Linked DNA regions of Homo sapiens: region 2 is linked to region 1. The links come from fine-mapping of genetic effects on gene expression. A gene starts in region 1. The other region holds a variant in brackets. All regions are shown on one strand. Distances are between the middles of the regions.

Region 1 (5,527 bases):
ACCCTGTGATTAAGGTCAATGGGAAACTACAACAGCCCAATCCAGGCAGGACTACAAATGGCCCAGACCCTTCAGGAATGAAGGTTTGGGTCACTCCACCAGGAAAAAAAAACCACCACCTGTTCAGGTACTTGCTGAAGGCAAAGGGAATACAGAATGGGTAGTAGAAAAAGGTAGTCATCAATACCAGCTATGAGCACATGACCAGCTGCAGAAACGAGGACTGTGATTGTCATGAGAATTTCCTCCTTCTTTTGTTAAAAACATGTTTGTGCATGCATACACTTGTACTAAGAAAATATCTTCATTTTATTTCCTTTTCCTTTATCATGTGATATGAGATTCACTGACTTCATATCAGCATTTAAGTATTGTTAACTTTATGTAATAGTATGTGAGTTGGGGACTGCATTTCCAGTTGTACAAAGGACAGTTCAGTTATGTTAGACATAATTATGACCTTATTATTGTCTTATTTGAAGATTATGAATGATCTCAGGAGATGTGTATGGGTTCAAGTTGTCAAGGGGTGGACTTGTGATGGTTAATACTGAGGGTCAACTTGATTGGATTGAAAGATGCAATATTGATCATTGTCAGGTTGTTACCCAAGGAGATTAACATTTGAGTCAGTGGGCTGGGGAAGGCAGATCCACCCTTAATTGAGTTGGCACCACCTAAACCGCTAACAGGGAATATAAAGCAGGCAGAAAAACGTGAAGAGGCAAGATAGGCCTAGCCTCCCAGCCTACATCTTTCTCTTGTGCTGGATGCTTCCTGCCCTTGAACATCGGACTCCAAGTTGTTCAGTTTTGGGACTTAGACTGGCTCTCCTTGCTCCTCAGCTTGCAGGCAGCCTATTGTAGGACCTTGTGATTGTGTAAGTTAATACTTAATAAACTCCCATTCATATGTATATATCCTATTAGTTCTGTCCCTCTAAGGGAACCCTGACTAATACAGAGGATCATTGTCTTTATCCATTATTTCAGTAGAAAATGAAAAGTGGTGATATTAAAATGATATCATTTCTTCTTTATTTATTAGTGGTACTTCTGTAAAGAGAAACTTCTCTTTATCAATTTTTTGGGTCCCAGACAGTCCAGGGAAAGCAGAGTAAATGCTTAATTCATCCCCTTTATTTACCAGTTTTCAAAATAATGAGTTGGTTTCCTAGCATTCTCTAAGAGTGACAATAATTTTTTTTAAAATCATCATCATTACAAACACCTAGATTTAAACATATTTGATATGTTTTAATATTTTGTAGTTCTAGTCCATTTAGTGCTTTAATTCTCCCATCTTTGACATGGAAAAATTTCTTTAAATTGGTTTCTGAGTCCTTTTGACATAATCCGAGTAGCTTTTGACAGTTTTTTGTTATGTTTCCTGTTTGATGTTTCTGGCTCATTTGCATGACCCATATCTGGAATCATGAATTTGGATGGACAGTATCAATGTAAACTTATGATATATTTTACCTTAAAAAAAGTCTTTTACTAGAAATAAGGTCAAACTCACAGCAGTGAGCACTCCTAGAGCCAGATCGTTATATCTAAATACCATTTCCCTCTAATAAGAACCAGAACTCAGAGCAATGGCTAACTTCAGATGTGGCCCTATTTTCTCATATGAAGCTTGAGATCTTCTTCCAAGCTCATTCCTGTTATTGGCAGAATTTGAAATTATATTGAAATTCAGTTCTATGTATGAACCCCAGATTGAAAATTCCCTAGAAAAAAAGCTGAAGGGAACCATTCACATTTTAAGTAGTCAAGTAACAAGATCAGATTTCTGTTTCAGAAATACCGCTCTGACAGCAGGTGCAAGAATGGGGTGTGTGGCGGGGATGTGGAGAGCGGCTGCACAGCTGGGAGGATGTCCAGTGAACGGGCTTAATGATAACTCAGGCTGGATATAGGGGAGGCCTAATTTAAGACAGTAGCAGTGGGGCAAATAGATGGAGGGCTGATTTGCTAGTCACTAACAGGCAGCAGCCTCAGGTCTTGGTGATGGGGGCTGATTTGCTAGTCACTAACAGGCAGCAGCAGCAGCCTCAGGTCTTGGTGATGGGGGCTAATTTGCTAGTCACTAACAGGCAGCAGTCTCAGGTCTTGGTGATGGGCGGGGTCAGGGGCGGAGGGCGGCTGTGTCACAGGGGGGCAGAGCTGCAAGCAACTCTTTTGGTGCCAGGGGCAAGCTGCGGAAAAGAGAACTCAGAGTTATGGGGGGTGTGGGGAAGATAACTCCTGGAGGAAACTCTGTCATGCCCCCAGCCCATCCTCCTACGAACTAGCCCTGGAATAATTAGGTGAATTTGAAAATGTCCTCCGTAGGCGGGAGTTCTATTCGGGGTTACCTGCGGCCTCCCCGGTCCTGGATTTCAGTCCTCTAGGTATTTCCTGAGTAGCTCTTAATAATACAGAAGCCCCTTTCCGGTGTAGGTCGGTAAGAAGCACTGCACAGAAATCTGATGCGAAGTGGGGTCTCCTAGCGGAGAGGGAGGCACCTTATAAGTAATCACTAATCCAGGTTGAGATATTAATTATTGATGTCAAGAAATCGGGCTTTTATTATATCTTTTTAAAAACTGTGTCTTGAGGCCAGGCGCTGTCGCTCACGCCTGGAATCCCAGCACTTTGGGAAGCTGAGGCGGGCGGATCATGAGGTCAGGAATTCGAGACCAGCCTGGCCAACATAGTGAAACCCCGTCTCTACTAAAAATACAAAAATTAGCCGGGCGTGGTGGCACACGCCTGTAGTCCCAGCTACTCGGGAGGCTGAGGCAGGAGAATCGCTTGAACCCGGGAGGCAGAGGTTGCGGTGAGCCGAGATCCTACTACTGCACTCCAGCCTGGGCGACAGAGCAAGACTCCGTCTCAAAAAAAGAAAAAAAATTGTGTCTTGAGTAGAATTTTAATGTGGAGAATGAGCTGTTCGGTAAATCAATTCTTCCCTTTGCAAAGCTGTAAAACATTTAAAACATTTGGCCAGGGTGACATGGGCACAGAAGGGGCAGACAGGAGGTCGGCAGCCAGGTCTGTGGAGGAGTAGCCACAGGTGCAAGAGGCCGCGTCAGCGTCCTCCCAATCAGCCTCTGCTGAGGGAGTGCCGCGCGCGGCGAGCCGCGCACTCCCCTTGCCTTTCTCCCGGCGGCTGGTACTCGCTCTTAGAGATCTGCGTTAGCTCAGAGCTAGGCTCGGTGCCGCAGAGGCACCTGAGGTTCCACGACTGCATTCCAGGCCCCGCCCCTTCATCGGGATCTGGAAGGAGGAGCGCCGTGCGCGCCCGCGCCGGCGCGAGCGCTGAAGCTCCGCCCCCAGCTTCTACCTCCGGTTCTATCCCGGCGTTTCGCCCTTCCCCACAGACCTCTGCCCCGGACCCATTTCCGAGGCGCGCCGCATGCGCCGCGCAACCCAGGCCACGAGCACGGGCGCGTGCTTAAGTCAGCGCGCGCCCGCTCCGACGCGAGGAGGCCCCGCCCTCCAGCCCCGCCCCGCTCGCTGGCCTGCCCTCCTCTTGCTACCCTCCCGGCGCAGAGAACCCCGGCTGCTCAGCGCGCTCCGCGGTCATGGAGATCCCCGGGAGCCTGTGCAAGAAAGTCAAACTGAGCAATAACGCGCAGAACTGGGTAAGCTGGGGACGAAGGCGAGACGGCGAGGAGCGGAGGGGCTGTGGGAGCAGCTCGTTCCGGAGCCGCCGCCTCTCTCCCGCCTCCTCCGCATCCATCCTTCCAGGAGCGCGGAGGTGGGTTCCGGGGCTGCGGCGCCTCCCGGCTGGGGCCGTGGGTGGTTGCGAGGCAGAGGGGCGCGGCGCAGGGTGGGGATCTCGCCCTAGCTTGGCGCAGCGTGCGGTCCGAGCCACCGTTCGTGGGAAGAACGCCCCCCCTCCCCAGCGCCTCCGCTCAGGTAAGACCCCCAGGAAAATCCTTCACCCGTGAACTGGCGCTTGCTGAAACCTCCGGGTGCTGAAACCTGCGGCTGCAGAAACAGGAGCTTCCTGCATACCTTGGAGTGGCCTGAAGATGTGCAGAGAAGGCGGAGGCGGGCGCCTTCGACGCGTTCTTGGTTTTTCTTGGCTCTGCCAGTGCGGTTGGCCCAGGTTTGGGTCCATCTCCGTGTCTTTCCATTTCTGAGTTTCAGTGTGAAAGGAGAGTACCCAACAATGTGGTCATTCATGAGTTGAGACTGCCCTGAACTGAGGTTCTTTGTGTCTCTGTGTTAAATCGGAATGTTTAACAAGTAGGAGTTTGGAAGACTCCATTCCTGGTGACAGTCAGGTATGGGACCAGTCCTTTATAACGTTTAGTAATGACTGCCAGTTGACTTTGTAAAGTGCTGTGTCCTCATAACGTTGCTTACTTCCTTAATTTCTCTGTGATGAGAAAGAGCCTTATCTTCCTTTGTAAGTGTGCAGCAGGGAAGGGCCCATCTTTGGAGTCTGGAAAGGCACTGGTTTAAGTTTAGACGGAAACGTTATTTCACAGTCCAATGGAATAATAAGGTTTAAATGCAATGTCTCCCAAAACGTTACTTGCCCTAGATGAATCAAAGAAAAAAAAAACAAGCAATTTCAGGCAAATGTTCTTTGGAAGTCATTAATTTACCACATCTGTTGTTATTGTTATCATGAGTTGTTTACTGATTCCTCTCTCCTTTTATTTAACTCTATAGATGGTAAGGAGGGGAAGGAGATTTAAAAGATGAATTAGAACAGTGGAAAGAGCGCTGGACTCCTGGCCTGGTCTCTCATCCCAGCTTTGCCATTTACTAGCTGTGTGATCTTGAGGAGAGTCACTTTACTTTTTCGAACCTCAGTTGACTTAAGGGTATAATAGTATGTACTTCACGGGATTGTTTTGATGAACAAAGAAGACAGATCATGAATTTGAATGTGCGGTGAAACCACTGCCTTGAAACTCAGACTCAGTTTCGCTTCTCTTACCTTAAGGTGTTTCACGGTTAGGGAAATAAGGTTGGCTTACTTGGGGTATTTACAGATGATTTCTGTTACATTGTCCATTTATGTACTCATTTATTTATTAACATTTGCCACATGGTGCGTATTCTATGTAGAGACTTGTGCTAGACATGGTGGTGAAAAATGTGGGACTTACTGCTTGCCTTCTGGTAGTTCATGGTTTGTGTTGGGGTTGTGACATTTGCCAAGTGGTGAATATGTCTTTGTGGTCCAGAGTGAGTGGCGTAAGACAGAAGTTTTATTGCAATTTAGAGGAGAGATTAGTTTCGCCTGGGCGTTTTGGGAGGGTTTATGGAGGATTTCAGATTTCTGAGTCAGAGGGGAACTGCATGGATAAGTGTTGGGAATAAAAATTACTATTTTTTTTACTCCAGAAACATTGACGAAACTTGTTTGACTGCCCTGGAGAGTTTTTGTTGGGAAGTGGAGGTAAGGTTCAATAGGGAGGCTGGGGCTCCGTGATGCTCTTGTGTTTGGCTGCAGAGAAGACTTGATTCTATGGGGGATTTTTGATGGGGCTAGAATTTTAAATTTTCTGATCCTTGTA
Region 2 (5,000 bases), 28 kb after region 1:
GGAAGTTCTGGCCAGGGCGATCAGGCAAGAAAAAGAAATAAAGGGTGTTCAAATAGAAAGAAAGGAAGTCAAATTGTCCCTGTTTGCAGATAACATGATTCTATGTTTAGAAAGCCCCATAGTCTCAGCCCCAAAACTCCTTAAGCTGATAAATAATTTCAGCAAAGTCTCAGGATACAAAATCAATGTGCAAAAATCAAGCATTCTTCTACACCAACAATAGACAAGCAGAGAGCCAAATCATGAATAAACTCCCATTCACAATTGCTACAAAGAGAGTAAAATACCTGGGAATACAACTTGCAAGGGACGTGAAGGACCTCTTCAAGGAGAACTACAAACCACTGCTGAAGGAAATAATAGAGGACACAAACAAATGGAAAAACATTCCAGCCTCATGGATAGGAAGAATCAGTATCGTGAAAATGGCCATACTGCCCAAAGTAATCTATGTATTCAATGCTATTCCCATCAGACTACCATTTGATATTCTTACAGAATTAGAAAAAAACTACTTTAAATTTCATATGGAACCAAAAAAAAGCCCTCTCTTCTATTTTTTTTTTTATTCCAGTTAGCCTTCTGTACTACCATGAATTCTTTCAAGAGCATTGGTACATTAGACTTTAGTATTTTATCTCTTGTTTTAGAACTATCTTGGTTATGACACTCGCCAAGTTGGCAAGTAATAGTGCATAAATGTACTCTTTCCTTCTCTTTGTTTACTGAGTAAATACTGTTGGTATAGGAAGGTGAGTTGAAATGAGGGTGTTCTATTAAAATTAATTATATTATAAATTGGACTCCCAGATAATTGTATCAAGGTGGTTTGTGAGTGCTGATGATCTAGGAAAATGGAGGTACCTTTGTAACATTTCTTTCTTTTGTCCTTTCTTTTTCTTCCCTCACCAGAAATAATTTGGGCATATGACTTTGTTTTAAAATTTGGCATGCAGCTTTAGAAAAGTGGTAACGAGAGGACAAAGTGAATTCCCAACCATGTCTGCTAATAAAATTAGTTAAGCCTTTCTGAAGTTTATCAGTGATTTCTGATACGTTTGCTCATAGATATTTCATTAAAACAAACACTTATTATGTTTAAACTGTAGGTGTTTTCCTAGGCAAGAGGTAAATCTTAAAGAGAAATATTAGATAAGAACATTACTGAGAGATTGCTTTGCATAATGAATGTATTTAATCCTGTGATTGCAATTTTTTATATCTCTTGAGCCAGGAGTTTGAGACCAGCTGGCGCAACATATTGAGAATTCTGTCTCTACAAATAATAAAATAAGTTGGATGTGGTGGCATGTGCCTGTTGTCCTAGCTATTTGGAAGGCTGAGGCATGATCTCTTGAGTCCAGGAGTTTGAGGCTGCAGTGAGCTATGCAGCCTCTGCACTCCAGCCTGGGTGGCAGAGCAAGACTCTTGTTTCTGGGAAAAAAAAAGTATTACTACATAGTTATCCTTCTAACTTTACACATGGAATCTGTTTGGACTGTTTAATTTTAGGCTTGTCTGGAGCGGGAAAGACTACTGTGAGCATGGCCTTGGAGGAGTACCTGGTTTGTCATGGTATTCCATGCTACACTCTGGATGGTGACAATATTCGTCAAGGTCTCAATAAAAATCTTGGCTTTAGTCCTGAAGACAGAGAAGAGAATGTTCGACGCATCGCAGAAGTTGCTAAACTGTTTGCAGATGCTGGCTTAGTGTGCATCACAAGTTTCATATCACCTTACACTCAGGTATGTGGTTTTTGTGCCATTGCCTTTCTGCTTACATTTATTGAGAATATGGTATCAGGCAAAGCACATACTTTAAACATTGATATGTGCTTTGAGGCTAACTCTACTCCTCCCCAGCTACCATCTCTTTGTTCCTGTAACATAGGATTAAAATAACCTAAAACATTTCTATGCTGTGACTTTCTAAGTAAATCTGGTTTTGATAAAACCTGCTTTTAAAAAAGCCGTGAAGTATAACACAGTCATTGAATTTAAGCCAATGGCCAAATTATTTCAGGCTCAACTTTTCAACTTAATAAAACTATAGTGAATACTTGACAGATGTCAAACTCCGGAGAAAATCTAACTTTCTTAACATGTGCCCTACCATGGCTTCTTTGCTCAGAATTCGTTGTTCTTAGCTTGCATCATAGTTCCTCTTATTTTAGAGACTGCAGCAACAACAAACCATGTTTGTGTATTTCTCTGAAAAAATTATGTCATTTCTTATCTCAGGATTTTTGTTTCCTCCCTGCCTGGAAAGCACTCTTCTCCCTCCTGTTCCTGTTTTCACAGTGTCAGCTGACTTCCAGTTATAGATGGAGACTTAGGTTAGGTAC[C/T]TTAACACATTATTTTATTTTCTTCAACTTTTATTTTAAGATCAGGGCTACATGTGCAGGTTTGTTAAATTGGTAAACGTGTGCCATGGTGATTTGCTACACAGATCATCCCATCACCTAGGTATTAAGCCCAGCATCCATTAGCTATTCTTCCTGATGTTCTCCCTCCCCAACCACAACAGTCATCAGTGTGTGTTGTTTCCCCCCATGTGTCCGTGTGTTCTCATTATTCAGCTCCCACTTATAAGTGAGAACATATAGTGTTTGATTTTCTGTTTCTGTGTTAGTTTGCTGAGGTTAGTGGCTTCCAACTCCATCCATGTCCCTGCAAAGGACATGATATCATTCCTTTTTTAGCTACATAGTATTCCATGATATATATATATATATATACACACCGTGTTTTCTTTATCCAGTCTATCGTTGATGGGCATTTAGGTTGATTCTATGTCTTTGCTACTGTGAATAGTGTTGCAGTGAACATACTCATGCATGTATCTTTGTAATAGAGTGACTTATACTCATTTGGGTATATACTCAGTACTGGGATTGCTGGGTCAAATGGTATTTCTGCCTCAAGATCTTTGAGGATTCACTGCACTGTCTTCCACAATGGTTGAACTAACTTACATTCTCACCTACAATGTAAAAGCATTTCTTTTTCTCCACGAGCTCACCAGCATCTATTGTTTCCTGATTTTCTAATAACAGCCATTCTGACGAGTGTGAGATGGTATCTCATTGTGGTTTTCGTTTGCATTTATCTAATGATCAGTGATGTTGAGCTTTTTTTCATGTTTGTTGGCTGCATGTATGTCTTCTTAAGAGAAGTGTCTGTTCATACCCTTTGCCCACTTTTTAATGTTTTTTTCTTGTAAATTTGCTTAAGTTCCTTGTTGATCCCATTCTGTAGGTTGTCTGTTCACTGTGATGATAGTTTCTTTTTCTGTGCAGAAGCTCTTTAGTTTAATTAGATCCCATTTGTCAAGTTTTGCTTTTATTGCAATTACTTTTGATGTTTTTGTCATGAAATCTTTTGCCTGTGCCTGTGTCCTGAATGGTATTACCTAGATTTTCGTCTAGGGTTTTTATAGTTTTGAGTTTCACATTTAAGCCTTTAATCCATCTTGAGTTAATTTTTGCCTATGGTGTAAGGAAGGGGTCCAGTTTCAATCTTCTGCATATGGCAAGCCAGTTCTAGCACCATTTATTAAATAGAGAATCCTTTCCCACTGCTTGTTTTTGTCAGGTTTGTCAAAGATAAGATGGTTGCAGGTATGCATATGTTATTTTTAAAAACCCAATTCATTGACTGTTGATATTGATAGTAGCTGTAGTGGTAATAATATTAACATTTATTGAACACTTAACTGTGTTCTGGTAACTGCTAGAGTGCTTTTATGTGAATTAACTCAAGTAATTCTTGTCTCCTAGTGGGGACACAAGGAAACAAAGGTGTGCATTGCCCAAGGTCACACACTATACTTGTAGAAGAGCACAGGTTTGCATCCAGACAGTGCGTCTCCTGGGCTTAGATGCTATGCTGCCTCCAAACCCCACTGGCTCCTTGACAGCTGGGACCGTGTCTTATTTGCCTTTGTAATCTTGATGCCAAGCCCGGCTCTTGGACCATATTATATGATTAGTGTTTGTTGAACAATAGCATACTCCCTTGGGAAGCCCTGATATCAGTGAATAAGCGAGTTAGTATAGAGGTGAGAGGCAGGGTCTTTGGAGTTGGAAACAAAGGGGCTGAAATCTCAGCTCTGCCAGTTATTGCTGCTGTGGCCTTGTCCAGCACACTTAACCTCCTGCAGTTCAAGTAATGCCTACAACATAGGGTTGCTCTGAAGATTACGTAAGTCATGTGTTTAAAGCCTCAGCACAGTGCCTGGCATGTAATAACTATTCAATAAATGGAATAAATTATATTAGCACAATTCTAGTACTGTATCATAAATTTTGATGGTTACTTGGACTTTTTTTTTTTTTAAACAAGATTTGACCTGTAAGAATTATGGATAAGTGTTAGATTGAGTATTATTTACACAGGTTCACTTAATTGAACCATGGCAGGAGTCCTAAAACATTCTGTAAAAACCATTTCTTGAAACCCTTGGGTCATTGCCAATATATCAGTTTAAAGTGTATAAATAATAGGAGCATAATAAGAGTTAGAGTTCCTGAATCCTTGGATATACACAATTTTCATAAAAATATGATATTGGCATTCTTATACCTTCTGGTGGGAATCTTGCAGCTCTCGGAAAAGGGGGAGGTCTATAATACCTGTTATGGAGAGCTATCAGCCGACACCTGGGTATCTAAGAGTGTGTGCTGATCTGCTTTGTGGCCCCCTTGTTTGTATAGTGTGGAGCAAAATCTTTGTTGACCTCATCTATAAAAGCACTGATAATGAGGTTTGGACTATGTTTAGGGCATCTGAAAATCCATGAAAATATTTGGATTGAAACATGCAATACAGGACATGTGTATTTTTCTGTATAGTCATGATTATATTTGTTCATTCAAGAGAAGTTTATTGGGAATTTCCATGTCAACCACTGAACTGAGCATATTGGTTCTGAAAATTAACCTGATACTTCCTATTCTGAAGGAGTTGGTAGTCTGGTGGGAATGCGGAGATGTGAAG

The links. PIP is the estimated chance that this variant, and not a neighbour inherited with it, causes the effect.
Region 2: its variant is fine-mapped to the expression of PAPSS1 in whole blood (INTERVAL, PIP above 0.99).

Annotation. Positions count from the first base shown.
Region 1 is chr4:107,718,224-107,723,750 of GRCh38, reverse strand. PAPSS1 (3'-phosphoadenosine 5'-phosphosulfate synthase 1) reads left to right here and starts at 3,517. Exons shown (of 12, transcript NM_005443.5): 1 at 3,517-3,631. The coding sequence starts at 3,572. RefSeq lists enhancers at 2,065-2,214, 4,205-4,264 and a silencer at 3,325-3,574.
Region 2 is chr4:107,690,519-107,695,518 of GRCh38, reverse strand. It overlaps PAPSS1 (3'-phosphoadenosine 5'-phosphosulfate synthase 1), which reads left to right. Exons shown (of 12, transcript NM_005443.5): 3 at 1,513-1,748. Among named protein-coding and RNA genes, the nearest start is that of PAPSS1, 27 kb to the left of the region's middle. The variant C/T (reference allele first, on the strand shown) is at 2,348.